4 separate regions of the Homo sapiens genome follow, and all the other regions are linked to region 4. The links come from fine-mapping of genetic effects on gene expression. A gene starts in region 4. Each other region holds a variant in brackets. All regions are shown on one strand. Distances are from middle to middle. Region 1 overlaps HERC3 (HECT and RLD domain containing E3 ubiquitin protein ligase 3). Region 2 overlaps LOC102723458 (a long non-coding RNA gene). Region 3 overlaps HERC5 (HECT and RLD domain containing E3 ubiquitin protein ligase 5). Region 4 holds the start of HERC6 (HECT and RLD domain containing E3 ubiquitin protein ligase family member 6).

The links. PIP is the estimated chance that this variant, and not a neighbour inherited with it, causes the effect.
Region 1: its variant is fine-mapped to the expression of HERC6 in fibroblasts (GTEx, PIP above 0.99).
Region 2: its variant is fine-mapped to the expression of HERC6 in whole blood (TOPMed, PIP above 0.99).
Region 3: its variant is fine-mapped to the expression of HERC6 in whole blood (TOPMed, PIP above 0.99).

The regions. Positions count from the first base shown.
Region 1 is chr4:88,659,660-88,667,969 of GRCh38, forward strand. HERC3 (HECT and RLD domain containing E3 ubiquitin protein ligase 3) reads left to right here. Exons shown (of 26, transcript NM_014606.3): 11 at 2,772-2,896; 12 at 4,494-4,553; 13 at 7,718-7,829; 14 at 8,233-8,310. Among named protein-coding and RNA genes, the nearest start is that of NAP1L5, 34 kb to the right of the region's middle. RefSeq lists an enhancer at 4,316-5,515. The variant C/T (reference allele first, on the strand shown) is at 3,692.
Region 2 is chr4:88,446,093-88,454,402 of GRCh38, forward strand. All of the region lies in intron 1 of LOC102723458 (a long non-coding RNA gene), which reads right to left. Among named protein-coding and RNA genes, the nearest start is that of HERC5, 6.9 kb to the right of the region's middle. The variant AT/A (reference allele first, on the strand shown) is at 4,757.
Region 3 is chr4:88,495,573-88,503,882 of GRCh38, forward strand. It overlaps HERC5 (HECT and RLD domain containing E3 ubiquitin protein ligase 5), which reads left to right. Exons shown (of 23, transcript NM_016323.4): 19 at 4,354-4,420; 20 at 5,343-5,413. Among named protein-coding and RNA genes, the nearest start is that of PIGY, 24 kb to the right of the region's middle. The variant TA/T (reference allele first, on the strand shown) is at 4,505.
Region 4 is chr4:88,374,497-88,382,806 of GRCh38, forward strand. HERC6 (HECT and RLD domain containing E3 ubiquitin protein ligase family member 6) reads left to right here and starts at 4,356. Exons shown (of 23, transcript NM_017912.4): 1 at 4,356-4,624. The coding sequence starts at 4,426. RefSeq lists a silencer at 4,579-4,768 and enhancers at 4,779-5,108, 8,185-8,310.

The sequences.
Region 1 (8,310 bases), 290 kb after region 4:
GTCAATAAAACAAAATACAAAAGGCACTGACTCTGTGGAGGATAATCAGTTTTTGTCCATAAGTAATAGAGTTTTAAGTATTTATTTCCCCTAGAAACTAGTATTGAATAGTGTTATTCAATAGTATCCAACTTTAATTTTCCTGTGAAATTTAACATGAAATTTAGTTTTCTCTTGTAAATATAGTATCTGATATATGTAACTGATTTTTATTATTGTAATCAACACCTTGGGCCTGGAAAACAACACACTGATGAGAAGGAAGTGAAGTAGCATACTATTAGAGAGGCAGGGCAGGTTAAAGTTTAAACAACTGGAAAGAGGGATAGGTATGCATGAAAAGTGTAAGATCACAAAGAAAAAGGAAAGTAAACATTACTTAAGAAGATGTTGCTCTTTCTTTTGAAACTGAAACCTATGCACATTTACTTAAACTATTAACCAGAGATGATTATTTAGATACAGAGGCTGATCAAATCATATGCTTACCCTGTTACCATATCACTTAAAGAACCAAGAAAAAGCACCTGTATAGTTACAGCCTCTATTTTTTTTTTTTTGAGATGGAGTCTTGCTTTGTCGCCCAGGCTGGGGTACAATGGCGTGATCCCGGCTCACTGCAACCTCCACCTCCTGGTTTCAAGCGATTCTCCTGCCTCAGCCTTCTGAGTAGCTGGGATTACAGGCGTCCGCTACCATGCCTGGGTAATTTTTTTTGTATTTTTAGTAGAGACCAGTTTCACCATGTTGGCCAGGCTGGTTTTGAACTCCTGACCTCAAGTGATCTACCCTCCTCGGCCTCCCAAAGTGCTAGGATTACAGGCGTGATCCACCACGCCCGGCCATAGCCTCTATTTTTATAAAAGGCTGACTCATTCATTACTGCCAGGCCTTAGGTGAAAGAAGGGAGGGAAGGAGTTATATTCAGATACCCCTTTGCTACACTGATTCTAGGTCTTGGGAATTTAGTGAATGTAAACCATAGCATCTCCTTTTCCTGTCGTTTTGTTCCCTGGATAGAATTGAAGAGGGAATGTGGTTGGGATTGTTAGAATTGTGTGTGCATGTGTGTGTGTTTGTGTGTGTGTCTATCTCATAATCTTCTTTTTCCTGGAACAGTGATTCTTAACCTTGGCTGCCTACTGGAATCACCTGGGAGCTCTACAAAATACTGATGACTCTAGAGATTCTGATTTAATTGGTCTGGAGTATGACTTGGTCATCAGGATTATTGAACGCTCCCATGGTGATTCAAAGTCCAGCCAAAGTTGAGAAACACTGACCTAAGAGCAATTTTTCCTTTTTTGCCTGTATGTATTAAAGACAGGAAGAATGATGTTTTTTCTTGGTTCTTTAAGTGATTCTGAACTTGTACTTCACCCAAGGCATCTCTGGTTTATTGGACATATGATGAGGAATGATAAAATAGTTCCAAGTCTTTATTTTATTGTAGGTTTGTGTTAGAGTTGATGTTCAGCTGCCCCTTTGAATGGGGGAAATAAATAAAATTTACGTAACAACAGTGGTTTTACAAGGAGGTGGAAAGACAATCTCTGTGTGTACTCCAGCATCTGCTTTGGATTATGAGTTTCCTGTATGTTGTACTTCAAGATGATTTTTGTTCTCTCAATAGATATCTGTGGCCATTTTAGTAGAATAGTTATCAATAACCAGATGATCACAAACTTTGTCAGGCATCTCTGTTTTATTACATGCTCTACTCCTTCCTACCATAATGATACGTTAACTTGAAGCTATGGGAAAGTAACCAAGAAAATTTACTTTGAAAGTTATGTTTTTATGTGTAGGTACAAAGGAGAAAAAAAATCTCATGAGCTGATGAATGAGTGCTTTAATATTACCTTTTTCCTCTTCACTGGAGACGAGAATAGGAGTATAAAGCACCATCAACCTTTCCTTAGTTCTCGATCAAGAACAAGGCTTGGGGAAAATAAGTTGAAAACAAGCAATTTTAGAAAAGGAAAGTGCTTATTATGTTTTTTTTCTTTAATCTCACTGAATAAAAGATGTACAGTGTTGGGCAACATTTGGAATTTTCAAGGACATACATTATTAACATCTTTTTCTGCCATTTTTCTTATAATAGCTATATACTTGAAGCAAGAAATTAAGAGTCATTGTTTTTATAGGTTATTTGTCATATAGATTATAACTGAACTCTGGCTCTTTTGTAATACATTTTGTTGAAGTTTGGTGGACATTTATGGCAGATGACTAATACCTTAAAAACCTGCTGTTACAGTGATTCAAAGCAAAGGGGAAAGAAGTCTGGGAAAGTTGTACTGAGTTGGTTTCTCTGGGAAACAGACCCGAGACTCAAAGGTTTTTGGGAGAGTGCTTTCTAGAAGAACATCTACTGAGGGATGAAGGAGGCAGGATTGCGCAGAGGGAGGGGTTGAAATGCAATTCAGTTATAACAGAGGCCTCAGCCAGTCCCATGAGGAGCACTGAAGTTGTGATGGTCCTTCAGCCAGTCCTGAGTTGAGGCAAGCGGGCTGGACCTTTACACCATGCCTCTACCTGCCATTGGATGTGATAGTGAAGCAACAGTCAATGCCAAGTCCTGGACAGCAACCCAGCTGGGATCTGTCAGGAGCCTCCATTCTGAAGGGTGGAGGGGATCTGGGCGGCACACTGCAGCATTTAGATCATAAGTGAAACGTAAAATGGAGAATATGTGGGAGAAAGGAGAGGAGACAAGATCCATGCTACATAATTTCTTCTTTTTACTGTTACATTTAATTCTCCAGAATTATTCTCCTGCTGTTGACTTCAGGACTATGAACCAAGCACATTATACCAGTTTAATAAATGATGAAACCATAGCAGTTTGGAGACAAAAACTCTCAGAACACAACAATGCAAATACAATCAAGTATGTGGCTGCTTGTCTTCATTTTTTTTTCCACAAAGTATGTTACAACTTTTTAGCTTAGTGTGATTTTCCGTACTTGCATATTGATACTGTGAATGTAAATGGGGTTTTACATTATAGGGAATCGTGGGTTATTTTTGGTTACTATTTCAGGGTTGATCTCCTTAGCCCCAAATAGCATAATGGATGGATCCCCAATTCTCACACACAGTATATGCCTCAACCTGCCTTGTTTATTGTATGATCTTAAAAATCCTGACTGATGAAGGCCTGAGTTGGTGATTCTGCTAAGAGAGCTTAGCGTTATGGTTAACTCCCATGGGTTTTAGTGTATGCATGTTCCAAAACATCCCAAATCTGAGACAGCTGTTATCTTACCTAATCTTAATAATTTCTAGCATTTTCCTATTCATAATGATTGAGATGGTAATTCAGAGTCATGTAGAAAAAAAAAAAAACAACAGTAAGTAGGATTGAGAGCTTTTATCAAATTTAAAGGACAATTTTCCTTTGCACATTTTTACACATTTTCATTGGCTTTCCTCAGCCTCTCCACTTTTTTCTGCAAAGTCTGATTCTTGGGAAGAATAAATCAAGCTCTGTGCACTAAGTTGTGGTTATTCCCAGAAACGTACATAATGGTTCCTGCATTATGACATAGATTGTAGTGGGCCAAATGACCAGGACGCTACACTTTGAGGCACTTGAGCTAGTAACGTTGTGAGTGAGAGAGCATTAGAAACGCCCTAGAGCAGCTCTGTGGCAGTCTTCAGAATCCCTCTAACCTTAGGATGG[C/T]TCTGCCAAGGAGCTCAGGCTGAAGGGTCGCAGGGGAGAGGAGATGAGGGCTTGCTGGGGTCCAGCAAGGGAAATGGTGACACTTTACCATTAGTTCTCTGTTTTCTTATTTATAAAATGAATGGATGGAAGACATGATCTTTAAAGATCTTTCCTGATCTAAATTCTGTGATTAACAGAAACTACTGTAATCCCCTCCCCAGCTGTATATTTGTGTTATTCTTTCCCTTTTCCTTACACTGAATGGAAAGGCCCAGGGTTCCTGATGTCCAGTTTCATTTTGGGCCCTCAGAATTAGCTGTTTCCTCAGAGCCTGTATAATAGAAGGTAATGGGAATAAGCACTTGTTTCACTATTTTTTAATTTATGTCTCAGATATGCAGCAAAATAGAAGTAATTTTTCAGTTATTAATTTGCCAAGATAATTTCTGTGTTCGGGAAGTAACAGCTTGGCTTCTCTTTTTTGGTTTTATTCTGTGTTTCTCTTTGGAGTTTAGATAGGGCACTTCTTAGATGGTTGGTGGTAGAAAAATATTCAAGAACATTATTGGGACAAGAGGTTTTCTTTCAGGAGCTTTGATATTCTTTTTTTTCCCCTAACATGGGAAACTTAAGTTCTTCTTCATTTTGAGATGTGACATCCTGTTTTTCTAAAGCAAATGTACATTTTCCAAAGCTTCAGCTGACAAAGAGCTGCTATTAATGAAATCCTTGAGTAGATGGTTACTTTATTATTGATGCTTAAATAACCATTTATTTGTAATTATTAAAGGCTTCCCCCTCCCTTCTTTTCTTTGAGCAGTGGTGTTGTTCAGATATTATCTTCTGCAGCCTGTTGGAATGGAAGTTTTCTTGAAAAAAAGTAAGTGACTTAGAGCCTTAAAAAACCCTCACGTGTACCTGTAGTCTCAAGCTATTTGGAAGGCTGACACAGGAGGATTGCTTGAGTTTAGGAGTTTGGGGCTTTAGGATGCTGTGATCATGCCTGTGAATAGCCACTGAATTCCAGCCTGGACAACATAGTGAGGCCCCATCTTTTTAAAAAAAGTTTCTTAAAACCCCACATGTGATGCAAATACTTACTCAGCAAAGGCTGTGAAAGACTTTTCTTCTCTTTGATGGTGGTTGGCCTTAATTTAATGAGTAAGCTGATGCTTTGCGCAAAAATTGGAAAGCCTAATAATGGTAATGAGAGGATTTCAGGAAGAGCAATGCTGATTCATACCTGGATGGCAGAAAAGCAGATTACCGAGAGAGACTGTATCTCAGAAATAATTGGTAGAATCATCAGTAAGATTTTCAGAGTATTCTAAGATGTGTCATAATTCTAAATTCTTAATTCCTCAGATAATTTTCTTGATTTCTTTGGTTTGCTTTCCCACAGTTTTAAAATTTTTATTATTTTTTATTTTTTTCTCTCAAAAGGAGTGAATTTCAGGGAGTAATTCTAAGGAGGCTTCAGGGGCTCCTTGGATTTAGGTCCAGCCCAGCTCACCAGAGAATTATATTTGAGGTTGAACTCCCCAGTAGTAAATAGAATGTTTATTTGCTTAGCCTTATCCCTTCTGCAAATATCTCCCTCAGGAACCTGATGCAGCAAAAGAGTCTTGTCATGGGTTTGGATCTTTGGTAATCCCAAGTCCTAATTATTTCTCAGTCCTTTCTGCCAGTGACCAGGCTATATGAGATCTCAAGATGAATTAGACTTCATTTCTGTGTGTGAATCCCACCCCTACCCCTCGAGCCCTGTGTTACTCAAGGTTCTTCAGAGAAATGGAACAAATAGGAGAGAGATAAATAGATAGATGGATGTATCTAGAGAGAGGGAGAGGAAGAGAGGGGATTTACTACGGGAATTGGTTCACCTGATTATGGAGGTTGAGAGATCCTGCCATAGGCATCTGTAATCTGGAGAACCAGGCGAGCCAGCATCATAGCTTAGTATAAGTCCAAAGGCCTGAGAACCAGGGAAGCTGATGGTGTAACTCTCAGTCTGAGGCTGAAGGCCTGAGAAATGGGTGGGGGCTGCTGGTGTAAGTATTGGAGTGCAAAGACCACAGAACCTGGAGTTCTGATGTACAAGGGCAGGAGAAGAAGGATGTCCTAGTTCCAGAAGAGAGAAATAATTTGTCTTTGCTCTGCCTTTTTGTTCTGGGCTTTCAGCTGACTGGGCGGTGCCTACCCACACTGAATGAGGATGGATTTTCTTTACTTAGTCACTAATTCAAATGCCAATCTCTTACAGAAAACTGACCCAGACATACCCAGAAATAATACTTTACCAGCTATCTGGGTATTCCTTAATCTAGTCATGTTGACTCCTAAATTCAACCATCACCACCCCCTCCCCACAAATGAGTCCCTAACTGGGTTGCAGGAGGTCACTTCAGAAACTCTCTTTGGTTACATTTAGAGATTATAAAGTCATTTACTTTTATAATTAAGGCAGCTGGGATGAGCTCACACAATTCATTTCATATTTAGTAATTAGTTTTTTCCTCTAGGGAAAGATATTCTGGATTATGCTGATGTTGGCCTTCCAGAACAGGGGTTCTCAACCAGGGTGATTTTGCTCCCCAAAGGACATTTGGCAATTTCTGGTAACATTTTTGGTTGGTACAATGGGGAGGGACTTGCTATTGGCATCCAGTGGGTAGAACCCAGCGATGCTGCTAAACATCCTTCATTCCCACCTGCCCAGCAAAGAATCCTCTGGTCCCAAAAGTCAATAGTACCAAGGTTGAGAAACCCCGTTCTAGATGGATAGCTTTCATGACATTTGGGAAGGGCTCTTGGCCAGACTTGTTAGGTTGTTCATCCTTAGTATCACAGATTTCGTATAGAGTTGTGGGGAAAGCCTTTTATTTTTTTTCAAACTGACATCTGTGTATTTCAGAAAGTCTACTCCTGTAGCGTACATAGGATGCATCTCAGGAAACCAATCAAAATGAAGACCAGATTTACAAAGCAATAAATACGTATAGATAAAACATTTTGTTTTTGTTTTCTCAACAGCATAGCAAAAAGCATATGGAAAATTACATATGGGAAACCAGAATTCATTTCTATATTTTGGGCAGATTTATTTTAAAAACAATAACAACAACAACGAAAGACCCAAAAAACAAAGTACAAGCAATTTATCTTCATTTGAGCATAGGGTTCCGATACATATAATTATGATTTTTAAAAAATGTTAGAAACTCTTATGTTTTCAAAAATTATAACATTGCTGTCAGAGTGTATTAAAATCATCTGAATGTGTCCATTACTCAAAAACAGAAGCCTGCTTTGCAAATAGATAGCTCTTTTGTAAATTAACAAATGTGGTATGTTCAAGAGCAGGATATATGAGATATTCTCTAAGTCTCAAAAATGCTAAGATTTTATTTAAGGTTAAAAAAATGATTTAGTTGCTAGAAAGTTAAAAATAGTGGCAATGAAATTAGTCCTTGGGTGAATGTAATTGTATCCTTTGTGTTAACGATGAGAGACATTAACTTTGCATTTACTATAGATCATTTTTATTTTAAATACTTTGGTAAGAAAGGCTTTCAACAAGGAAGTTCTACTGTCATTTGTTGATGAGTGGACCAGTTTGCACAGGGGACGTTATTTGTACCAAGCCACAGCATCTACATCTAGTTCAATGAGCCACAAAAACAGAAAAAAACCAAAAAACACAAGATGAAATCAGGGAAATAATTATTTGTTTATAAACTTCAAGATAGCCTTAACTTGATATGACAGTCCTTGTACTTTGACTTGAAGGAAAACAGATTTAAAAATTTGAAAATTCTTGTAAAAGGAATTCCAGTGTGGTTTATTCTTTGTGAAAGAATAATATTCTGTATTTTGGGTTTATTATTTTGAGATTTATGCAAAGTGTAGTATTTTTGTGGATCTTATCTGCCAGATCAAATTTAAATCTGATTACTAAGAACACAGTATTTTACTTGTTTATAATTCCTATCAGAGTGTTTGCTTTTTCTTTTATTATATACCTTTTTGATTTTGTTTGTTTAGAATTGATGAACATTTTAAAACGAGTCCCAAAATCCCTGGGATTGACCTGAACTCAACTAGGGTGTTATTTGAGAAGTTAATGAACTCTCAGCACTCCATGATTCTAGAACAGGTATGTTTCTATATTTGTAAAGTGCATTCTTAAAAATGCATTTTTGTATCGATGAATTCAACTTCAAGAGAAAAAGAGTAAGATGAAAAAGTGAAAGTCTCCAAATCTTAATTTTGTAAAGTATTTACTCTGGGAATTAGACCTACCTTTTGCTTTCTTTTGGCTTAAACCTTTCCAAGGCAATGCCCCTCTAGAATATACAGTTTGCACTGGCAGGGATCTTTGGCTTTTCTTTTCATGGATGTGTACTGAGGGCCTAGACCAGTGTCAGGCTCATAGTAGGTTCTCAGTGCATAGTGAATGAATGAGAGTTGAGAGTCTATCAAATAGCTTATGAACTTAGAGAAAGTTAACTAGATCTCAAGTATGTTTGAATTTCTCATTACTCTTTTCCCTCATACAGATTTTGAACAGTTTTGAAAGTTGTCTGATTCCCCAGTTGTCAAGCTCACCACCAGATGTTGAAGCCATGAGAATCTAT
Region 2 (8,310 bases), 72 kb after region 4:
ATGTCATGGGCACCAAAATTAATTCACAGGCCAAGCAGCAGCTTCACTTGGAATGGCTGAATTCTATAGGATACAAATCCCAAATTTCGGGCACATAGCAAAGCCCCTTTACAAGGCAACAAGGGGACCTTAAGATGAGCCAATGGAATGAACCCTAGAAATGAGGGAGACTTTCACCAAGTTAAAACGGGCTCTCAGCCAGGCTCGTGCACTCAGCATTCCAAACCTCACCAAGCCCTTCCTGTATGTAGCAGAAAAGAAAGGCATAGCTGTGGGAGTGCTTACTCAGAAGTTGAGAACAGAGCCTAGGCCCATTGCATACTTTTCTTTTTTTTGAGATGGAGTCTTGTTCTGTCTCCCAGGCTGGAGTACACTGGCACAATCTTGGTTCACTGCAACCTCCAGCTCCTGGATTCAAGTCATTCTCCTGCCTCAGACTCCCAACTAGCTGGGATTACAGGTGCCTGTCACCACCATGCCCCAGCAGATTTTTGTATTTTAATAGAGACCGGGTTTCACCATGTTGGCCAGGGTGGTCTTGAATTCCTGATCTCAAGCAATCCACCCACCTTGGCCTCCCAAAATGTTGGAATTACAGGCGTGCGTTACTGTGCCCAGTTGTTGCATACTTTTCAAAGAAATAAGACAGTAGCCACCAGGTGGCCCAGCTGCCTGCAGGCAATAGCAGCCACTGCTATTTTGGTTGAAGAAGCTATTAAAATTACTATAGGCTGGCCAGGTGTGGTGGCTCATGCCTGTAATCCCACCACTTTGGGAGGCCAAGGTGGGCGGATCACCTGAGGTCGGGAGTTGGAGACCAGCCTGACCAACATGGAGAAACCCTGTCTCTACTAAAAATACAAAATTAGCCGGGGGTGCTGGCACATGCCTGTAATACCAGCTACTTGGGAGGATGAGGCAGGAGAATTGCTTGAACCCGGGAGGCGGAGGTTATGGTGAGCCCAGATCGCACCATTGCACTCCAGCCTGGGCAACAAGAGCAAAACTCCGCCTCAAAAATAAACAAATAAATAAATAAACAAAAATTACTCTAGACCAGCCACAACTCCCCACCAGTCCTAGAAATAAAAGGACATATCTGGATGACAGGAGAAAGATTAAATACGAGGTGGCACTCCTAGATAATCCAGAGATCACAATTAAGACCTGTAACACCTTAAACCCAGCTCTATTAGTCTGTTCTCATGCTGCTAGTAAAGACATACCTGAGACTGGGTAATTTATAAAGGAAAGAGGTTTAACTGACTCACAGTTCCACATGACTGGGGAGGCCTCACAATCATGGCTAGTGGAAGGCAAAGGAGAAGCAAAGTAATGTCTTACATGGCAGCAGGCAAGACAGTGTGTGCTGGGGAACTCTCCTTTATAAAACCATCAGATCTAGTGAGACTGATTCACTATCATGAGAACAGCACGGGAAAGACCCACCCCCATGATTCAATTACCTCCCACTGGGTTGTGGCAGGCCAATTCTCCCTGACAATCACACAGACAGGCCTGTATAGCACTCCAGTTACACTGACAGATTTCCACAGCACTGCCTTAACATTTAGCAAATAGTTAAGCCTAGGGAAACTGGTGCCCAGACATCAAAGCTAGAAATGAAACATATGTCATATGGTCAGTAGGTTTCTCCCTAACCCGGAGCAAGTCAAAATAATAGAGACAGTCTTACATTCCTAGTGCTAGGACCCATCTCGGGTTGACGGAATCTGAGACAGTTCAAGGTAATGGTGGCAGCTGTGTGAATAGATTCATTAGAGAGTCTAAGGCAGCTCTCTGGACCAAGCTGCAAAGGAGATAAGATAGAAATAATCACTCTGGTACCACAGTAGACAGGCCTTGAAGGTTCTGGGGCCCTTTTAATCAAACTTAGCAAGCATTTTTTGCTTCTGTCCTTCTAGTTGAAACAAAATTAGCTACAAATAGACTTAGGTGAATGCTATACTGCACGTAGGCACATAACCCCAACCTATACATGCACTAAGAAAATTGTAACACTTTGGGTTGGTCTGGTGGAATTATCTCTGGCCTTCTCCCTGTATCCAGTTATATCAATAAATTCCATTCTTTCCTAGTTTGTCTGCTTCTCCTTATTGGGCCTTGAGAAAACGCAGCCAGACCCAGCTTGGTTCTGGGAACAGGGTCCCTCCCATGACACATGGAAATTATGGGAGCTACAGTTCAAGATGAGATATGGGTGGGGACACAGCCAAACCATATCATCAGCTGCACTGCTACCTATGGGCACCATAACCAATCATTCCTGTGAGCAAATCATTGTACACAGATATGGGAGCCAGCCTCTTTTATCTTTTAGAACAGCCTCTTCCAGACCCTGTGGATAACTGGTTTATAGACGGCAGCAGCTTTGTGCTAAACAGGGAGCACCAAGCTGGATATGCAATAGTGAATTACACCATTTTTGAAGTCCAGCTACTGCCCCCAGGCACATTGACACAAAGGCTGAGATCATTGTTCTTACTCAAGCATTAAGGTTGGGACAAGAGGCTGGCGCAGTGGCTCACGCCTGCAATCCCAGCACTTTGGGAGGCCGAGGCAAGTGGATCACCTGAGGTCAGGAGTTCAAGACCAGCCTGACCAATATGGTGAAACCCCGTCTCTACTAGAAATACAAAAATTAGCCGGGCATGGTGGTGTGTGCCTGTAGTCCCAGCTACTTGGGAGGCTGAGGCAGGAGAATTGCTTGAACCTGGGAGGTGGAGGTTTCAGTGAGCTGAGATCGTACCACCACTGCACTCCAGCCTGGGCGACAGAGCAAAACTCTGTCTCAAAATAAATAAATAAATAAATAAAGGTTGGGACAAGGAAAGAAAGCTAACATCTATGCAGATTCTAAATATGCATTTCTTGTGGTTCATGCTAATGCTGCAATTTGGAAAGGAGACTACTTACTAGCAAGCACTCCCCCATAAAACATGGGATTCTTCAGCTATTGCAGACAACATTTGCCAGAGGCCATAGCCATTATTCATTGCAAAGGGCAACAAAAGAATCTAACTCCTATAGCACAAGGGAACAAAAAGGAATCCAAGGCAGCAGCCCTCAAGGTACAGTCTCAACAAGTTTTAGCACTACTCCTTTTTTATGACCCCCCAATAGAACCTGAGTACACCTCACAGGAAGAACATCTAATAAGACAACAAGGAGGAATGAAACAGGGATCTTGGTGGTATAAGGGATCAAAAATAAATCTTCCCCAAGCAGCCCAATGGAAAATCATAAAAGCCCTGCATAACTCTTTCCATGTGGGAAGAGACACAACTTTGGCCATGGCAAACAAGCTCTTCACTGGATCCAACCTAGCTTCCATGGCCAAACAGGTCTGTCAAGCCTGCTCACTGTGTGCATTAAACAACCCAGGAAACAAAGTGCCTCCTTTAACAGAGCCAATCCAAAGAGGGAGAACTTACCCAGGGTAAGACTGGCAATTGGACTTTACCCATATGCCAGCCTGTAAAGGATTCAAGTTTTTACTAGTACTGATAGAAACCTTTATTAGCTGGGTTGAAGCTTACCCTTCCAGAACAGAAAAGGCCAATGAAGTAGTGAAAATTCTCTTAAAAGAAATAATCTGGCTAGGGACGATGTCTCACACCTGTAATCCCAATACCTTGGAAAGCTGAGGCAGGCAGATCACTGAGCCAGAAGTTCAAGCCCAGCCTGGGCAACATGGCGAAACCCTGTCTCTACGAAAAAAAAAAAAAAAAATTATCTGGGCACGATGGTGCATGCCTGTAATCCCAGCTACTCAGGAGGCTGCGGCACAGGAATCATTTGAAACAAGGAGGTGGGGCTGCAGTGAGCCAAGCACACTGCACTCCAGCCTGGGCAACAGAGTGAGGCTCTGCCTCAAAAAAAAAAAAAAAAGAAAGAAAGAAAGAAAGAGAAATAATCCCTTGGTTTGGGCTACCCCAGAGCCTTCAAAATAACAGCTTATCTTTTGTCTCCCAAATAACTCAAGGGGTTGCTAAGGCCCTCAGGATCAAATTTACATTCAGCATGGAGGCCTCCATCCTCCAGGAAAGTAGAAAAGGCTAATCAAACTCTAAAATGGGCATTAGTTAAACTGTGCCAGGAGATGTCAGAGACTTGGGTTGACTTGCTCCCCACATCCCTCTTAAGGATCCGTAATTCCCCTCAAGCAAAAATTAATCTAAGCCCATATGAAATATTATATGCAAGGCCATCTTTAACTAATGATCTAATCACTGATCCAGAAACAACCAGTTTAGTAAAATACCTAATTAACCTGGGACAATTTCAGCAGGATTTACAAAAGTTTGGAACCCAGTGGTTCCCTGTACTGGGAACTAACCAGCAACCCAAAATTAGGCCAGGAGGTAAGGTACCGGTGAAAACATGGAAAGAGGAATCATCTGCTCAACAGCTACAACCCAAATGGAAGGAACCATTTTCAGTGGTGCTGGCCACACCTTCCATGGTCAAGGTACTAGGGTTAGATAATTGGATACATCTTTCCAGCATCAAGCCTGCCATACCAGAAGTTCCCGGACCCCGAACGTGGAACTCCCACCAGCCACTATACCTGTGAACCTGTGGAAGACCTGAAATACCTGTTTAAAAGAATGGCTAAAAGATAAGTAAAGGCCTACTAACTTTCCTTGGTGTCTTTTCTGTGTGTTCGTGGTAGTTGGGGTAATACTAGTTTTTCTTACATTATTAAACTGCCTTTTCCCAAGCAGGTAGGATC[AT/A]TTCCTCTGCCCTAGTAGAATCCTATCCTGTAGGACTTAAAGGAAGCAAAATAACAAAAAGGTACATTCATACCCACAATGATTTGCTATAGGCCACACACACTGGGATCATGCATATTGGGAATTGGCTTAATTCTACAGCAGGGCCTTGATTTACCCTCTGACCATTAGGTGACCCTCAGTATTTACTAAGAACCTTGAATCTAACACAAAGACTGTTAAACACCACCAGCCAAGCCTTGTTTTTTTGTTTTTGTTTTTTGGGTATTTTTTAGTAGAGACAGGCTTTCACCATGTTGGCCAGGCTGGTCTTGAACTCCTGACCTCAAGTGATCTGCTCGCCTAGGCCTCCCAAAGTGCTGGGATTAGAGGCATGAGCCACTGTGCCTGGCTGCCAGCCTAGCCTTAGTAAAAACATTGTTGGCTTTGCTTATCCCCATACTCCTCCAGGTACACTGCTATCCCAGTCCCAGCACGATATTGGGCCCTTGAAAAAATGACTTATCACCCTGCCTACAAAGGAGGAACTCTCTTCAAACTAATAAACTTAGATGACTTATACAACCAAATTACAGACATGACAAAGGTTACAATGACAGGACGAGCAGTAAACCTCCTGCAGTCCTATCAGAGCAACCTCTCTAGGGTTACATCCTCAGAAAAGCCCATCTAGGGCCCAATATCAACACACACAGAGCTAGAATTCCAGGTACACTCTGTGTCAAAAGGAGCCAAAAGTCCAGTCAGGTCCTGGGGACCTTGAAGAGTAATCAGTGCAACTACACTCTGGAGATTAATCCCTCACACAATCATGTAAATTACACAACTACCCAAACTACATGATTTAGAAAACCTGTATGGTTTTCACGGAAACCATTCCTAGTTAAGGGCATCTTAAAACATATTCGGTCTAAGTACTGTTAAGGGAAGCCCCCTAGCTGTGTCCACACTTTTCCTTGGGAAGACTGCATTAGCCCTGAAATTCACCTCTAGCTGTCTTTTGGTTCTCCATTATGAAAATACTCCCAGGTGGTTGTTGGTGGACGCCAAGAGCAGCTACCTCCACTGGGAAAATAAAACCACTGGGGCAACCCAACTTTGCAAGGCCCCTTCCCGTCGTCAACAGGGGCCACCTTAGCAGGGACCTTAACTACTTGGGAAAGCAAAAATAACAAACTAACCCATATGTTCACCATAGAAAACAATTTCTGTCTTGAAAAACGGGGAGCATTTTTCCTGTGCAGGACCAGCTCCTACTTACGTTTACCTGCCAATTGGACTGGAACTTGTATACTTGTTTATTTAGCCCCTGAAATTAATATAGCTCCCGATAACCAATCTCTCACTGTATCTTTGACTGCAACCACCAGACACAAGCAAGCCATCCAACTCATACCCCTTTTAGTAGAGCTGGGAGTAACAGCAGGAATAGGAACAGGAGTTAACGGGCTGGCAACTTCCCTATCCTACTACCAGGGCTTGTCCATTGATTTCATGGAAATCTTGGATGACATTGCTCAAAGTATTGTCATCAGACAAAATCAAATAGGCTCCCTGGCAGTGGTCACTTTGCAAAATAGAAGGGGACTAGACCTCATAACCACTGAGAAGGGAGGCTTATGTCTTTTCCTAGAGGAAGAATGCTGTTTCTATGTCAACCAATCAGGAATAGTAAGGGATGCCACCTGAAAACTAGCTGACCAGGCCGCTAAGATACAACAGCTGTCGGAATCATGGGGCTCCTGGTCAAGGTGCTGGGCTGGGTGTCATGGTTCCATCCCCTAGCCAGACCGTTGCTAATGGTTATACTGGCCCTGGTCTTTGGCCCATGTTTGCTAAACCTTTTAACCAAGTTCATTTTCTCTTGCCTAGAAACCATTTAGCTTCAGATGATTGTGCGACAAGGTTTCCAGCCAGTGCCAGGTAAAGGCACCACCTCTGGCCGTCAAAAGGTTACTCTGTCTCCACAAGACAAAGCAGGGCGAGAGTTCTGTGGTCCCCAGCAGGTAAGGCCAGCGTGCTAAATCAGCAGGAAGCAGTTACAAAAGAAAAGACCATCAGTCCCTCTGCCTCCCATAAAGATTTCTAGGGATCATGTCTCTCAGGGGGAAAATGAGGCAGGAGAATAGGATCCAGAGATAGGGAATCTAAGGATAACTTGGACAGACTCCCTGGAGCTGAAGAGTCTGCACACTGACCTATGATTGGTCCATTCCAGGACCTTCATTTGCATAAGGTGCCAAACCACATCAGGCTCTGATTGGCCACAGGCCGGTACCTGCACTCTGGCCAGTGATTGGTCTATTCCAGGCCCTTCATTTGCATAAGGCACCAAAACACACCAGTCTTGGATTGGCCATGGGCCAATTCACCTTGGCGTGGAATTGGTCACAAGCCAGTCCTTCATTTACATAGGATGTAACCCACAAGAAACCTCTAAAGGGTACTGAAGCCCCAGAAGACTTTGCTACCAGGGCTCTTGAATCACTTGCTTGAGCCCGCTCCCACCCTGTGGAATGTACTTTTGCCTTTGATCCTTCACTGTCTTCCACTTTCTTTTTTTTTTGAGAGGGAGTCTGGCTCTGTTGCCCAGGTTGGAGTGCCGTGGCGCGATCTCGGCTCACTGAAAGCTCCGCCTCCTGGGTTCACGCCATTCTCCTGCCTCAGCCTCCCAAGTAGCTGGGACTACAGGCGCCCGCCACCACACCCAGCTAATTTTTTTGTATTTTTAGTAGAGACGGGGTTTCACCGCGTTAGCCAGGATGGTCTCGATGTCCTGACCTCGTGATCCGCCCGTCTCGGCCTCCCAAAGTGCTGGGATTACAGGTGTGAGCCACTGCGCCCGGCCCACTATCTTCCACTTTCATAAATTCACTCCTTCACCGCTTGTTCATGTGTGTTGTTCAATTCTTTGTTCAATGTGCCAAGACCTGGACACCTCACCATCAGAACACTTAACCCAGAAACGAGATGAATGTGTTCATTCTTTTTTTTTTGAGTTCGATTGCACAGTGTGGTAAATATAATTAACAATACAGTATTGCACTTTTCAAAATACCGAAGAGATAAAATTTCAAATGTTTTCACCACAAAAATTGTTAAGTATTTGAGGTGATGGATGTGGGAACTAGCTTGATTTAATTATTCCACATTGTTATTCATAAATTATAAGATCACTTTGTTCCCCATAAATGTATACAATTATAAATTGCCAATTTACAATTTAAAAAAAGAGAATTAGTTGAAAAATGTTTGGATAAATAATAAAGTGATGAATCAAGAATAATTTTTTTTTAAGAGACGAGGTCTCACTATGTTGCCCAGGCTGGTCTTGAAATCCTGGGCTTAAGAAATTCTCCTGCCTTGCCTCCCAAGTGCTGGGATTACAGGTGTGAGCCAAGAATAATATTTTTAATAAAACAATGTTATGTAAAGCAACATTTCCTATATCCCTAACCTTGCTAGATATATATTTTATATTCAGGAATATCTCTAGAGTTTTTATTTTAGCAAAGTGCTGAATAATTTATTTGAAAAATCTGAATGTTAAGGG
Region 3 (8,310 bases), 120 kb after region 4:
GAATAAGAACAGTAATATGATTCTAGTATTATTATCATCCCTCTTTTACAGATTCAGAAACTAAAACACAGAAAGATTAGGTAACTTGCTCAAGGCCCCATAATGGCAGAACGATGATCTGAACACAGTCTGGCTCCAGAGTCTATTAATCGTTTATACTAACTGTACTAATAAGACAAGGAAAAAAAAATCAAAAGCACAAGATTTAGAAAGAAGGAGATAAATTTGTCATTATTATTTTACTGGAAACATCGAAGATAACCTAAATAATAATTATGCCTCAAAAGACTGATAATTAACAATGTACATGAACTAAAAGATCTTTAAATTTGTATCATTGTTTCTCAAACTTTTAGGTCTTAAGATTCTCTTAAAAATATTGAGGACTCCAAAGCGCTTTTAGTTAGGTTGGTTACATCTGTCAATATTTACGGGATTAGAAATTAAATATTTTAAACACAGGAATACACAAATATCTGTTAGCAGAGCATTCCACAATATCATATAGCCTCATGAAAACTCTTCTGTTTACTCACAGCAGAATGTGAAAATAGGCAAATAACATCTTAATAATGTTATGAAAATAGTTTTGACCTCATGAACTCTGTAAAGGCCCAAGGATTCCCAAGAATTGCTGGTCTGGCTCACATTTTGAGAACCAGTGATCTCTGTGTTCAGTAAAACTCAATTTTAATCCCAGGAGGCTTTTTATTAAACTTCACAACCTGGTTCTAAAATTTATATGGATGAACAAAGGGTCAAGAATAGCCAGAAATAATTCTTAAGGCAAATAAGGATGGAGAACTTGGTCTGTCAGCTATCAAGAATTATTAGAAAGCTGTATTAGTCAGGACAGTATGATGTATGATATTGGTGCAGGTTTTCCGATAGAACAGACGATAGAGCTCAGAAATGGACCCATGCCTATGTGGAACTTTATTAGAGGTGACATATTTGATCAAGGGGAATAGCAGTACTACTCAATAAATGGAACTGGAAAAAAATGATATCTATCTGGGGAAAAAAATGAAAGTAGATCTTTGTCTTATGCCATACATGATAATCACCTCCATGTGGATGAAGGATTTAGATATTAAATGCAAAAATCATGAAAATACAGGAGAATGATCTTTCTCACCTTTGAGATTTCTTAAACAAGACATGCAGTGTACCAACAGTAAAGAAAAGATTTAATACATTTAATTGCAATAAGATTAAAGAACTTCTTTCTTCATCAAGAGGGTGTTAGAAAAATGCAAAAGGGAAGGTGTTGTCAGGGTCTGAATGTGTCCCCCACAAAATTCATATTTTGAAGCCTCATCCCCAGTGTGGAGCCCTCATGAGTAGAATTCATTCCCCTATGAAAGAGGCCCAAGGGAGCCTGTTCGCCCCTTCCACCATGAGAGGACACAGAGGACACCATTGAAAAGGAATGGGTCGTCACCTATTCCCTTTAGATTCAGACACCGAATCTGCTGGCACTTTGATCTTGTACTTCCAAGCCTCCAGAACCGTGAGCAATAAATTTCTATTTATAGATTACCCAGTCTAAGGTATTTTGTTATGGCAGCGTAAATGGACTAAGGGAAATTGCTACCAAGAAGTGTGGTGTTGGAAGCAACTTTGGAACTAGGTAATTAGTAAGTAGTGGAAGAGTTTTGAGGCACATGCTAGAAAAATCATGTATTGCCCTATAGAGCAGTTCTGGCAAGGGCTCAGAAGAAGAGGAGACCTCTAGAGAAAGCCTTGGTCTTCTTAGAGATTACCTAAGTGGTCATGATCAGAATGTTAGTAGAAACGTAGACAATAAAGGCAATTCTGATGAGGTCTCAGATGGAAGTGAGGAACACATTGGAAATTGGAGGAGAGGTGCTCCTTGTTACTATATAAAGTGGCAGAGAATGTGGCTGAATTCTGTTGTATCCTAGTGTTTTGTGGAAAGTCAGATTCTTAACAATGAAATAGGATATTTGGCAGAAGCAATCTCTAAGCAAAGTGGTAAAGGAACAATATGGCTTTTCTTGACTGCTTATACCAAAATGCAAGCAGGGAGAATTATTTAAAGTGGAATTTATCATTAGAAAAAAAGCCAAACTTAAAGATTTGGAAATTCTCAGGCTGGCCATGTTGTAAAGAATGCAAACGTGTTTGGAAGAGAGCACCAAGGGTATGGCCAGGTGACTCTTTTTATTAATAAAGAGGTTAGTGTGGATGGGTGGAAGCCTGGTGCTATTCATCACGACAATGGAAGAATGATCCCAAAGGCATTTCAGAGATCACTGGGGGCTGTCACTCCCATCATAGGCCCTGAGTGCCAAGGCCTGGAGGACAGAACTATGTCAAGAGTGGCTTTGTGTGCCCACAGGACCTGGACATTTGATGTCCAGCGCTGCCTCAAGTCCCTACTCATTGCATTCTGGCACAGTGCTCCTCAGCTGACCCAGGTGTGACTCCAGTGGCCCCAGGTGTGGTGTGGTCACAGTGGCTGTGCCATCTCTGCTGGCACAGAGTGCACAAGCTGTGGGGCCTTGGCTTCTCCCACCTAGATATCAAAGGATACTCCACAGAGCCATGGGGTCCAGGCAGAGAACTGGCACAGGGTTGAGGCAACTGCAGAGAGCCCCCACTAAGGCAATGCCTAGTGGAGTCATGGGAGTGAGGCTGCTCTAGAGACCCGAGAAGAGCCACCAGTGTGCAGTTCCAGCCTGAGGGAGAATCAAAAGCACCCAACACTAATGTGTGAGAGCCTCTAGGGGTGGGCTTTGCCCAGCAAAGTCATGGGTGTAGGGCTGCCTGGAAACTTAGGAGCCCAACCCCAAACCCAGTGTGTCCTGAAAGTGGGACATTGAGTCAAAGATTATTCTCAAGCCTTAAGATTTAATGTTGCATGCCATTTTGAGTTTTGGACTTAGTTGGGACCTATTACCCCTTTCTTATTTCTGTTATTCCCTTTTGAAATGGGAATGTCTATCCTATGCCTGTTCCACTGTTGTATTTTATTTAATTTATTTATTTTGAGACAGAGTCTCACTCTGTGGCCCAGGCTGGAGTGCAGTGGTGCAATCTGGGCTCACTGCAACCTCCACCTCCCAGGTTCAAGCGATTCTCGTCCCTCAGCCTCCTGAGTAACTGGAATTACTGGCACATGCCACCATGCCTGGCTAATTTTTGTATTTTTAGTAAAGATGAGGTTTTGTCATGTTGGCCAGGCTGGTCTCAAACTCTTGACCTCAAGTGATCCACCCGCCTCGGCCTCCCAAATTGCTGGGATTACAGGCGTGAGCCACTGTACCTGGCCTACCATTGTATTTTAGAAGCAGGTAACTTGTTCGATTTCACAGGATCACAGCTGGAGAACAGTTCACCGCCTTCCCCACAAAAACAAAAACAACCCACAATGAATAAAACATGGTCTGTTACTTCACAATACAGTAATTTAAAAACCCAGTGGGGAAAAAAAATCAGTTCAGATTCCACCTTATCCCAGAGGCCTTTCCCAATGTCATGTATCCCTTCAGAAAAATTTAACTGTGCTCTTTTAAGCCTATACCTGTGTGATTTCCATAGTTCTCTGGCTGCACATACCTCACTGTATTGTAGGTGAGACTCCCATCAGCATACCTCACCTTCAAGTCCCAGAGTATTGGCAGTGATATCTTAGTCTCAACTTTACATCCCCTATGCCTGCTATAGTAGGGGCTACTTAAATGTTTGTTAAATAAATATTTGAGTGAATGAGCAAATACAATGAGATGTGTTATTTCAAAAGCATGTATAAAGCATCATAGGATGATAGGATGGAAATAATTTAAAAATTGGTTACTGTCCATTTTGATGTGACCTCTATTCTCACAAATGCCCTGAAATTATTAAGGTAGTCTAATTTCAGGTGTTTCTTAAGCTTGATGATATTGGGACAAGAGGTGCAGAGAAGGTCCTTTGACCCACCTCAGAGTTACTGATACCTGAAATTTAATATGAGACCTATTCTGTAAGTAAAGTTCAAAAGCTTCAATAAAGGTAACACCAGTTTGAATGAATTCACTATCAGTGAACGTTAGAATCCTTTTCTAAATAGAAACCTACAATCATTAGGTAGGGAATTTAAGGTAAAGGAACAAGAGCTGTGAAGCAGGCAGGCAGCCTGCAGAAATGCAGACAAGCTTCTTAAATTTGACATGTTTAGTTGAGGTCTGGCCCTGTTTAGACTATCAGTACGCAGAGAAAGAGGTGCTGTGAACTATACCTGACCTCATACCTTCAGAATAGCTATACACTTGACATTTATTTTAGATGCTGTGTCTAGTGATCATGGTTATTACCTTTTTAAAAGCAAGATTATTTTTTCCTTAGGAATTTGCAAACACTTCTGGATGATGAAGGTGATAACTTTGAGGAAGTATTTTACATCCATTTTAATGTGAGTAACAATAAAAGCAGATAACAGATTAGTTTTAATCTGATTAACCCTTTACATATTTAACTAAACATGTCAACTTTTACT[TA/T]AAAAAAAAACCTGAATAAATTAGTGAAAAAGGTATTGTTCTTCATCATGATCTAGGTGCATCAGTTAGATTTTACTATGTAACAGCCAACCCTAAAACCTAGTGCCCTAAAAGAACAAATACAATTTTGTGGGTTTCTGAACTGGGCCGACTTGGCCAGGCTGGATGGTCTACAGTGGTATCACTCACATGCCCAGTCACTGGCAGGCTGGTTGGGTTATAGGGTATCAGCTGGAACAGCTTGTCTCTGTTCCCTGTGGTCTTTCATTCTCCAATAGGCTAGCTGAGGCTTTTGAAGCAAGACTGCAGTCTTTATTCTTCACATGGTGGCCTTAGGGTTACAGAGAGGAAGCGATAGCAAGCCCCACCACACATGCTTCTGCTTCTGTCAGATCCCATTGGCTAAATAAAGTACCTCACATGGCCATGCCGAGATTCAGTGGCTGAAGAGATAGCCTCTCCCCTTGATTGCAAGTGTTGCAAAGCCACTAGGCAAAGGGGCAGGAGAACTAGGATGGGAAGAATTCATGGCCATTTTTGTAAATCTACCATACTGGGTCTATGCTGTATGAAGTGAATACTGAGATGTAGCAATTTTCCAATTAATTTGTTTAATTTGATCAGTTAAAATAAGAGAATTCAAGCTTTGAAAAAATTTATTTTTATTCAGTATGATAGGGTGTAATTTTTTGTTTGTACATTCCTTGCTAGCTTTTATGACAAAAATGTACATTTTAACACATTCTTTTTAGAAAGTATGCTCCAAAGTGTTTTTATTGATGATAGATTGTTCAGAATTATGTTGGAGATATTATCTGAGTTCATTTGCGGTTACAGGTGCACTGGGACAGAAACGACACAAACTTAATTCCTAATGGAAGTAGCATAACTGTCAACCAGACTAACAAGTAGGTACAAAAAATGAAATAGTTGGTTTGTATATGTACTATTTTTATTTTACTGAGCTCTAAAAATTCCTTTTAGCTCTTTAATTTTTCATTCTCATTAATCATTTTTCACTAAGGCAGAGAAGTTGGTGTGTGTTGTATGTGTTTTGACATATATATCATGGAGTTTATATTGTGGTAAGGAATGGAAATGGCTTTCTCAGAGAGACCTTTCTATTTCCTCCTGTCCAAAATTACAACACCAACATCTGTCCCTCTTTATCCACTCGTTCTGCTTTTTCTTTTCATATCACACATTACCTACCTTTAGGGTTTATTTGCTTATTTATTTCTCATTGTTTCTCCAATGATAGTGAATGCGGCAGGGACTTGGTATGTATTCTTCACCGCTGTATATTCAGTACCTAGAGTAGTCTACAGTGGTGCCTGATACATTGCAGGCACATAGTAAGTATTTGTTGAAAAGGTTACTATGATATTTTGACTTCCCAACATCTAATGGAATGCCATTTAAAGCCATGGAGTTTGGAATTATAGAACCTTCCCTTGATAGTTGGTCAGAGTGGCAAAGAGATCTCTAGGAAGCGTGCTGGCCTACATCACATCTTTTTCCACGATTTCTTAATCTTTTTTTTTAAACTTTGTATTGAAGTATAACCTATATAACAGAATTTTGCACAAGTCATAAATGTACAGTTTAGTGAATTTCACAAAGCAAACATGCCTATGTAATTACTGCCAGATCAAGAAATATAACATTTCCAGCTATATAGTTGTGTATTGTATGAATATATCACAGTTTATTTATCTGTAGAATTTTTTTTTTCTTTTGAGATGGCACCTCGCTCTGTCACCCAGGCTGGAGTGCAGTGGCGCAATCTTGGCTCACTGCAACCTCCGCCTCCCGGGTTCAAGCGATTCTCCTGCCTCAGCCTCCTGAGTAGCTGGGACTACAGGCGCCCGCCACCACGCCCAACTAATTTTTTGTATTTTTAGTAGAGACAGGGTTTCACCGTGTTAGCCAGGATGGTCTCCATCTCCTGACCTCATGATCCACCCACCTTGGCCTCCCAAAGTGCTGGGATTACAGGCGTGAGCCACTGCGCCCGGCCTATCTGTAGTATTTTTGACCGACATAGTGTATTTCAAGTTTTGGACTATTATGAATAATGCTCTTGTGAACATTCTTGTACATGTGTTTTGTTTATGTGCAGGCATTTCTGTTGGTATGTAACTGGGAGAAGTGCTTGGTGCCTTGTGGTTGCCCCTTGCTCCATGCAGGCAGAATCAATGCTCCTACCTGAAATTCATTTGGATATTGATATGGATGATGCCATATGTAAGCCAGAGAGTATGAAAATGTTTAGTACATAATGGGGCTTTTTGGGGAGAGCTGCACAGGCATCCAAGCTGATCTGTTTGGCTTAAGTGAAGAGAGAGGCAGGTGGCTTTAGTTTTTATGGTGGTTCCGTGGGGCCAGGGTCAGGGTTCTCATGCAACCCAGAGCATGCGTGGGGAAATTTAAGCCACGCAGCCATCAGTGGGTGCCCAGGGAGTGAGCCTGTGTTGTGCAGATTTGGAGGCGAAAGGGGAAAAAGGAGGAGTGGGACTTGAAAGCTGTTAGTAAGCAAACATAAAAAATGGAGGCACACTTTCATCAGTAGGGTACGACAGTTCTAATTGCTCTATATCCACTCTAATAGTATTACTAGTCTTTTTTAAATTAGCCATTCTGGTGGGTATATAGTAGTATTCCATTGTGGTTTTAATTTGCATTTCTCTGATTACTAATGTTAAGCACTTTATATGCTTATTGGCTGTTTGGATATCCTCTTTTCAGAAATAATTATTCCTCATCTTTAGTCTATTTTTCTGTTGCTTTTTTTTTTCTTGTCAGTTTATGAGAGTTCTAGATGCAAGTCTTTTGTTGGTTATATGTACTGCAGATATCTTCTTACATACTGTGGCTTGTCTTTTCACTTTTTAAATGTGTCTTTTGATTAACCAAAATTTGTAATTGTAATGTAGTCTACTTTATCAATATTTTCCTTAATGCATAGTGTTTTTCTGTTTTCTATTTTATGAATACTTCCCTATCCTAGGGCTATGAATATATTCCCCTGTATTTTCTTCTAGAAGCTTATCATTTTATTTCTCACATTTAGATCTATGATCCACTTTAATTGATTTTTTAGTAAGATGCAAGGTATGGATCAGGTTTTATTTTTTCAATTTTTGAAACTGATTATACTGAACCTATAGATCAATTTTTTGAAAAAATTGACATCTTAAAATAATGAGGCTTTAATCCATGAATACAGAATCTCCATTTGTTTAAATCGTCTTTTGTCATTCTTGAAAAAATGTTAGGTAGTTTTCTATGTAGAGATCTTGTTGCAATATTCTAAATAGGTTTCTTGGATCATTTATTGTATTTGAATCTTCTCTGTCCTTAAAAATTTTTTTGTCTGCTTTTCTGTTAGTTACTAGGAGAGGTATATTAGCATCTATACTATACATGTGGATATGAGTGTTTCTTTAAGTTTCGTTATTACTAAGCACATAACAGATTTTTGAATTGTTTTACCTTCCTGGTATATGACTCGGTTGTCATTAGTAAATGTACTTTTCTATCCTTGTCTTGTTTGTCTGATTTTAGTATAGTTACACCACATTCATTTTGGTTGATGTTTGCATAGTGTATCTTTTTCCCTTCTTTGACTTTAATCTGTGTTTTCACATTTAAGTTATATATGTTATAAGCAGCATATGATGGAGTTGTTATAAAAATTACATTAGGGCCAGGTGCGGTGGCTAACGTCTGTAATCCCAGCACTTTGGGAGGCCGAGGCAGGCAAATCACAAGGTCAGGAGTTTGAGAGCAGCCTGGCCAACAT
Region 4 (8,310 bases):
GAATTGCTTGAACCTGGGAGGTGGAGGTTGCAGTGAGCAGAGATTGTGCCAGTGCACTCCAGCCTGGGAGACAAGAACAAAACTCCATCTCAGAAAAAAAAAAAAAGAAAGAAAGAAACTAGACCCATATACAAAAATCAAATCAAAGTTAATTAAAGACAATATAAGATGTGAAACTACTAGAAGAAAACATTGGGGAAATGCTTTGGGACATTGCTCTGGGCAAAAAATTTTGTGGAAGATCTCAAAAACACAGGAAACAAAAGCAAAAATAGACCAGTGAGATTACATTAAGCGAAAAAGCTTCTCCACAGCAAAGGAAACTCAACAAAGTGAAGAGACAACCCACAGAATGGGAGAAAAATATTTGTAAACTATCTGTCTGACAAGGGATTAATAACCATATTATTATAAGAAGCTCAGATAACTGAACAGCAAAAAAAAAAATCTGATTTTAAAAGGGCAAATGATCTGAATGGACATTTCTCAAAAGCAGACATACAAATGGCCAACAAGTATAAGAAAAAATGCTCAACATCACTAATCTTCATAGAAATGCAAATCAAAACCATGAGATATCATCTCACCACAGCTAGAATGGCTTTTACCAAAAGATAGGGAATAAGGAATGCAGGTGAGGATGTAAAGAAACGTACACTGTTGATGTACATTTCATACATTGTTGGTGGGAATGTAAATTAGTACAGCCACTATGGAGAACAGTATGGAGGTTCCTCAAAAAACTAAAAATAGAAATACCATATGATTCAGCAATTTCACTACTCTGTGTATATACAAAAGAAAGGAAATCAATATATCAAAGAGACATCTGCACTCCCACATTTACTGCAGTACTATTCACAATAGCCCAAATTTGGAATCAGGCTAAGTGCCCATCAATAGATGAATGGATAAAGAAAATGTGGTACATATACATAATGAAATATTGTTCAGCCATAAAAAAAGAATGGAATTCTGTCATTTCTGCAGCAACATGGGTGGAATGGTCATTATGTTAATGAAATAAGCCAAGCACAGAAAGACAATTATCACGTGTTTTCACTCATATGTCAGAGAGTAAAAAAAAAAAAAGTGAATCTCATGAAGATAAGGAGTACATTGTTGGTAACCAGAGTCCAGGAAGAGTAGGGGTAGGGGTGAGGAAAATGAAGAGAGGTTGATTAATGGGTACAAATATACAGTTGGATAGAAGAAATAAGACCTGGTTCAATAGCTCAGTAGAATGACTATAGGTACATTTCAAAACCACTAGCCAATAATAATTTGAATGTTCCTTTTTTTTTTTTTTTTTTTTTTGAGATAGGGTCTGGCTCTGTCGCCCAGGCTGGAGTGCAGTGGCACGATCTGGGCTCACTGCACCTTCCACCTCCCAGGCTCCGGGCTCAAGCAATCCTCCCACCTCAGCCTCCCACGTAGCTGGGACTACAGGTATGTGCCACTGCACCCAGCTATTTTTTGTAAAGATGGGGTTTCACCATGTTGCCCAGGCTGGTCTCCAACTCCTGAGCTCAAGCGATCCTCCCATCTCGGCCTCCTAAAGTGCTAGGATTATAGGCATGAGCCACTGTGCCTAGCCCAAGATAAATTATTTAAGGCGATAGATATCCCAATTTGATAATGTGTCAAATTATCATATGTACCCCCAAAACATGTGCATCTATTATGTATCAATAAAAGATTTTTTAGGCCAAGAGTGGTGGCTCACGCCTGTAATCCCAGCACTTTGGGAGGCTGAGGCAGGCGGATCACTTGAGGTTAGAAGTTCGAGATCAGCCTGGCCAACATGGTGAAACCCTATCTCTACGAAAAATACAAAAATTAGCCAGGTGTGATAGTGCCCGCCTGTAATCTGAGCTGTTCAGGAGGCTGAGGCAGGAGAATCGCTTGAATCGGGGAGGTGGAGGTTGCAGTGAGCTGAGATCGTGCCACTACACTCCAGCCTGGGTGGCAAAGCGAGACTCTGTCTCAAAAAAAAATTTTTTTTTAAAGAAATAACTTAATTTGAGGGCTCAGTATCTTATGGTAATAATACCAAACTCCTACATTTTGTGCTTGAGAAAAGAAATAAACATTAAGAAATTACTATTCAGAAAAAGGTTATATTTGGTATACAGCAAAACAGAACCAGAAATACTAATACTATCCACTGACTCACTACTCATCAATCCAATTGTCCGACATACCCTTATTAGCATCTACCAAGTTCCAGGTACTCTTGAGGTAGAAAAATAAAGAACATTTGTTCTTCTCTTTAAAGAACTTGAAACATGGTCATGAAGAGTGGTGAATTGAAATTACATAAATAGGTTCTGTAATAGTTTCTTTTAAAAAAAAATCAATAATGCTGATGATGGCTAACATTATCAAAGTTACCAAATCTAAAAACCAGTGCTCAGCGGGACATGGTGGCCTATAATCACAGCACTTTGGAAGGCTGAGGTAGGCAGATCATCTGAGGTCAGGAGTTCAAGACCAGCCTGGGCAACATGATGAAACCCCATCTCTTCAAAAAATACAAAAGTTAGCTGGGCGTAGTGGCACGTGCCTGTAGTCCCGCTACTTGGGAGGCTAAGGCGGGAGGATTGCTTGAACCTGGGAGGCGGAGGTTGCTGTGAGTTGAGATCACGCCATTGCACTCCAGCCTGGGCATCAAGAGCGGAAACTCTATCTCAAACAAACAAACAAATAAATAAATAAAAATCAGTGCTCAATCCTTACCTTGCTCCACAAGAAATTGACAGAGTTGATCCTTCCTTTATTCGTTACTTGCTCTGTCTATAACTCCTCCTCCTGGTTTTCCTCCTATGATCAGTCCTCTAGCCTCTGCTATACTGTCACCACATTCACCCCCTGGGTGTTCTCATTCAGCCATCTGGCTTTAAGCATCACCTCTACACTGATGGCTCCCAATTTTCTGACTACACCCAAGCTTCTCTCTACAACTCCAAAACAGTTTATCCTATTGCCTTCTTGATTAACAAGCATCTTACAGTTATCATTACCAATCTGTATTCCAGACACACATAGCTTAAACCTGCACCTTCCTCAGGGTTTCCCAGTCCAGTAGAGTTTACCTTGGAGTAACCCCTAAAGCCAACCCTGGAGTAATCCCTAATCCCTTTTCTTCTTTCCCCCCAATTTCTAATCCATCATCAAATCTGTGGACTCTTACTTTCAAAACATGTCTTGAATCTAATAACTTCTCCTCTCTTCCCTTCTAGGATATCACCTGACCTGAACTCTGAAGTAGTCTCTGCTAACTGGCTTTCTGCTTCCATTTTTGTCCTATTATTTTTCACACAGCAGCCAGATGAATCTTTAAAAACTGAAGTCAGATCATGGCTCTTCTCTATTCAAAACCTTCCAACTGCTTCTTTTCATCCTCTGCCCTCAGGTGTGATCACGACTCATTCCCTCATTTCCCATGTCCCCTCAGCTCTCTGCACAAATATCACTTCATCAGAGAGATCTTCCCTAATATCATCTCAAATACCAGTGCCTTCCGCCTCCACCCTCTGGTTCCTGTTGTATTTTTCGTTGCCCCTTGATATTACACTATGTGTTTATCTGTTTATGTTCTCTTTCCCTCAGGAGAATGTAAACGCATCAAGAGGATCTTGTCTTTCACTAATTGTATTTTCAGGCGGGGCCCAGAGGCTCACGCCTGTAATCCCTGCACTTTGGAAAGCTGAGGGGTGGATCACTTGAGGTCAGGAGTTCGAGACCAGCCTGGCCAACATGGTGAAACCCCATCTTTACTAAAAATACAAAAATTAAGTCGGGCGTCGTGGCGCATGCCTGTAATCCCACCTACTCGGGAGGCCGAGGCAAGAGAATCAGCTTGAACCCGTGAGGTGGAGGTTGCAGTGAGCCGAGATGGTGCCACTGCACTCCAGCCTGAGCAGCAGAGCGACACTCCATCTCAAACAAACAAACAAACAAACAAACAAAAAACAAACATATTTTCAATGCCAAAAAAGGTCTGGAATGAGGTGGGCACTCAGATGCTTTATTAACCACTCTAGGTATTATTCTAACACTTTATGTGCCTATTAAATTATCCCGACATATTAGATTTGCTGAATTGCAGTCCATATTTCGTAGATATGATAGCTGAAGCACGGAATCATTAGGTAACTTGCCCAAAGTGGCATTCACGACTCATAAATGGCTTAGGATGTAAACTCAGTTTTATTCCCTGGGACGCCCTCTCTGCTCTTCAGCACTTGAAGTTCAGGCAGCGAGAGTTGACATGGGGCCAGGGCTGCGCCCCTGGGGCGGGTTGAAGACAGGGTGAGTCTCTTGATATTCAGGAAATCATCGCGCACCCAGTCACCAGCGTTCGGGAGCCTGTCGCAGCGGGACCGACGGAATCCGGAGCAGGCGACAGGGCGCAGAAGCGGGATGTACTTCTGTTGGGGCGCCGACTCCAGGGAGCTGCAGCGCCGGAGGACGGCGGGCAGCCCCGGGGCTGAGCTACTGCAGGCGGCCAGCGGGGAGCGCCACTCTCTGCTGCTGCTGACCAACCACAGGGTCCTCTCGTGCGGAGACAACAGCAGGGGTCAGCTGGGCCGCAGGGGCGCGCAGCGCGGGGAGCTGCCAGGTGAGCGGGGGGCCCCAGGTGCAGGGTGTGAGGACCCCAGTACATGGGCGCGGGGGCTTGGGTACCGGGCGCAGGGAACCGGGTGCGGAGCGCTGGGACCCGGGTGAGGGGCGCGGGGGCCCAGGTGCAGGGAGCGGCTCAGATGCTGGGCGCCGCGGGCCAGGCAGGGAGGGGTGCTGGGAGCCTTGGATTCCTCGGGGCCCGAAGAGCCACAGGAACCAGGAAAATGGTGCCCTGTGCTACCGAAGAGCAACTTCCTCAGTTTCGTTTTCCCAACGCCCCTCGGATTTGTTTCGGTTTCCAATTCAAGTTCAAAGCGAAACTGAGAGCCGAAACTAACCTGGTCAGCGCTGCTCTGGAAAGAGATGTGGTCCCTCCGGCTTGCCTTGCAGATAAATCCTCGCCTGCGCGGTTCTACCTGGAGAAGGCAGCCTGACCTTACAAACGTGGTTTGTGGGTCAGACACCTGTATCTCCCTTAGAAATACACTGGGGCATTAAAAAATATATATATATAAAAATATATATATAAAATATATAAATATATATAATATATAAATATATACAAATATATAATATATAAATATATAATATATAAATATATATAATATATAAATATATAAATATATAACATATAAATATATATAATATATAAATATATATATAACATATAAATATATATAATATATAAATATATATATAACATATAAATATATATAATATATAAATATATATATAGCATATAAATATATATAATATATAAATATATATATAATATATAAATATATATAATATATAAATATATATAATATATAAATATATATATAATATATAAATATATATAATATATAAATATATATAATATATAAATATATATATAATATATAAATATATATAATATATAAATATATATAATATATAAATATATATATAATATATAAATATATATAATATATAAATATATATAATATATAAATATATATATAATATATAAATATATATAATATATAAATATATATAATATATAAATATATATAATATATAAATATATATATAATATATAAATATATATATAATATAAATATATATATAATATATAAATATATAATATATAAATATATATAATATATAAATATATAATATATAAATATATATAATATATAAATATATAATATATAAATATATATATAATATATAAATATATATATAATATATAAATATATATATAATATAAATATATATATAATATATAAATATATATATATAATATATAAATATATATATATAATATATAAATATATATATATACACATAATAGGCCGGACGCGGTGGCTTACGCCTGTGATCCCAGCACTTTGGGAGGCCGAGGCGGGCGGAGCACGAGGTCAGGAAATCGAGACCACCCTGGCCAATATGATGAAACCCCATCTCTACTAAAATACAAAAAATAAACTGGGCGTGGTGGCGGGCGCCTGTAGTCCCAGCTACTTGGGAGGCTGAGGCAGGGGAATCGCTTGAACCCGGGAGGCAGAGGTTGCAGTGAGCCGAAATCGCGACACTGCACTCCAGCCTGGCAACAGAGCAAGACTCTGTCTCAAAAAACATAATAATAATAAATATATATATTATATATGTGAGATAATACAATAATCGTTATGGATTATTGTAGAAATACGAGAAAGCAATCACCGTAGCTCCAACACCCAAAGATAACTCCTAACATTTTGATGCATTTTCTCCTTGTCTACTTTTTTCTATGTACATATTTAATCTTTATAAAAATCATGTCATTATAGATTTGTATATGCAGTATTTATGCAACTCTGTACATTGTGTTTTCATCAAGCATAATCTTATGAACATATTACCCTTTCATTTTGTATGTTTTGAAAATATGTTTTAAATTGCTGCATAACATTCTAAACTCTGAGAGTACCATAATTATTCTCTTTTTGTGGAAATTAGATTGTTTCCCACTAGGGGCTTTTATAAATAATACTGATTGATATTCTCGTAAGCAAATATTTGACTACATTTTTGATGACCTGCTGAGAATAGTTTCAAAAGGTGTGTGGAGGAGGAAAATTTTTCCTCTACCCTCTTAGGTTCAGCGGCTGGGTCCTGCAAACTTAACTGACAAAAGACAGATTGACAGGAGAAAAAGCATACAATTTTATTAATCTTTTACATATAGGGGAATTTACATGCGTGGGAATTTACAGAATAGAAGTGAAACTCAAGTGCTTCGACTTAGGAGCTTGTGTACCATGTTTAACAAAGAAAAGGGGGTTTGGACTTTAAAGGATGATGAACTCAGGGAAAGTGACTAGAAAATATATGGGAAAATCTAATGGAAGATAAGGGTTATTTTAATTGACTTGTTTATGCAGGCTCACCTCAGTGCCAAGTCTTCATCTTAGGTGACCCTTCTCTTCTTTTTTTTTTTTTTTTTTTTTTGAGATGGGGTTTTGCCCTGTCACCAGGCTGTAGTGCAATGGCACTATCTCGGCTCACTGCAACCTCCGCCTCCCCAGTTCAAACGGTTCTTCTGCCTCAGCCTCCCAAGTAGCAGGGATTACAGGCACTCACCACCATGCCCAGCTAATTTTTATATTTTTAGTAGAGACGGGGTTTCACTATGTTGGTCAGGCTGGTCTCAAACTCCTGACCTCGTGATCCACCCGCCTCGGCCTCCCAAAGTGCTGGGATTACAGTTATGAGCCACTGCGCCCGGCTGACCCTTTTCTTGGTGCCAGAGATGGGAGCTTCTCACAAAAGGATATTTATGACCTACTTTTAGGTAGATAAGAAGAGAGCAGAGACCTCTTCCTGCATCTGTTGATTCTCAATTGCCTTCAGCTCAAATTCTTAAAGTAGCATGTTTTCAGGTCTTATCACCCTCATTTGGAAATGAAGGGCAACATGATACTTAACCCCAAATTGTTCTCTAGAAAAATGGTACCAATTTCTATCTTTGTGAGTGCATGAATCTTTGGGAAATTTTAACCTTGCATAAATTGACAGTAAATAGTTGAAAAAGATAAGATTACAAAGATAAAAGGAAAAACAAAATCTTAAATGTTGCAAAAACTTTACTGGTATGATGTTCTCAACTCCAAACCTCTAATAATTCAGAGACAGACACCTTGGGAAAGCAGTTTAGGTTGGCTTGTAGGGAAATGTGATCCGGTTTTCATTTGTGGGCATATTTAGGGCCTCCATAGGGGCATATTTTTCACTTTTCATTGTAAGAGGATCCAGCATCTGCCTCTCACACTCATGAGGTAGGCTCCCTTCCAATTTCCTTCTGAGCAAGGGATTCACTGCTTTCAGTGTTTAGGGTGGGAAGACAGAATAGCAAAATGGAGGAGATCCCAACTTTTTTCTGGGTCTCTTTATTTTGCTAGGTTTTGCTAGAGAAACATTTGGTCATGTGTCATAGTCCCTAGAAGTTACCCCCTCCGTGATGCCTACTCCTTTAAATAACAGCCATTAAAAGATAGACTTGGGTAATTGAATGTTTTTAAGAGTCAATTTGAACATTCAGCAGTTCATGAATTGAGCAGCACCAGACCTCAAGCAGTTGGGCTCCACTAAGGGAGGTGCAAGGAGATGCCAGGGGGAACCTTTGATAACGTGTTCCAGGAAGCAAGACAAAGAAAATACTTGATTGGTTAAAGTGGAAAG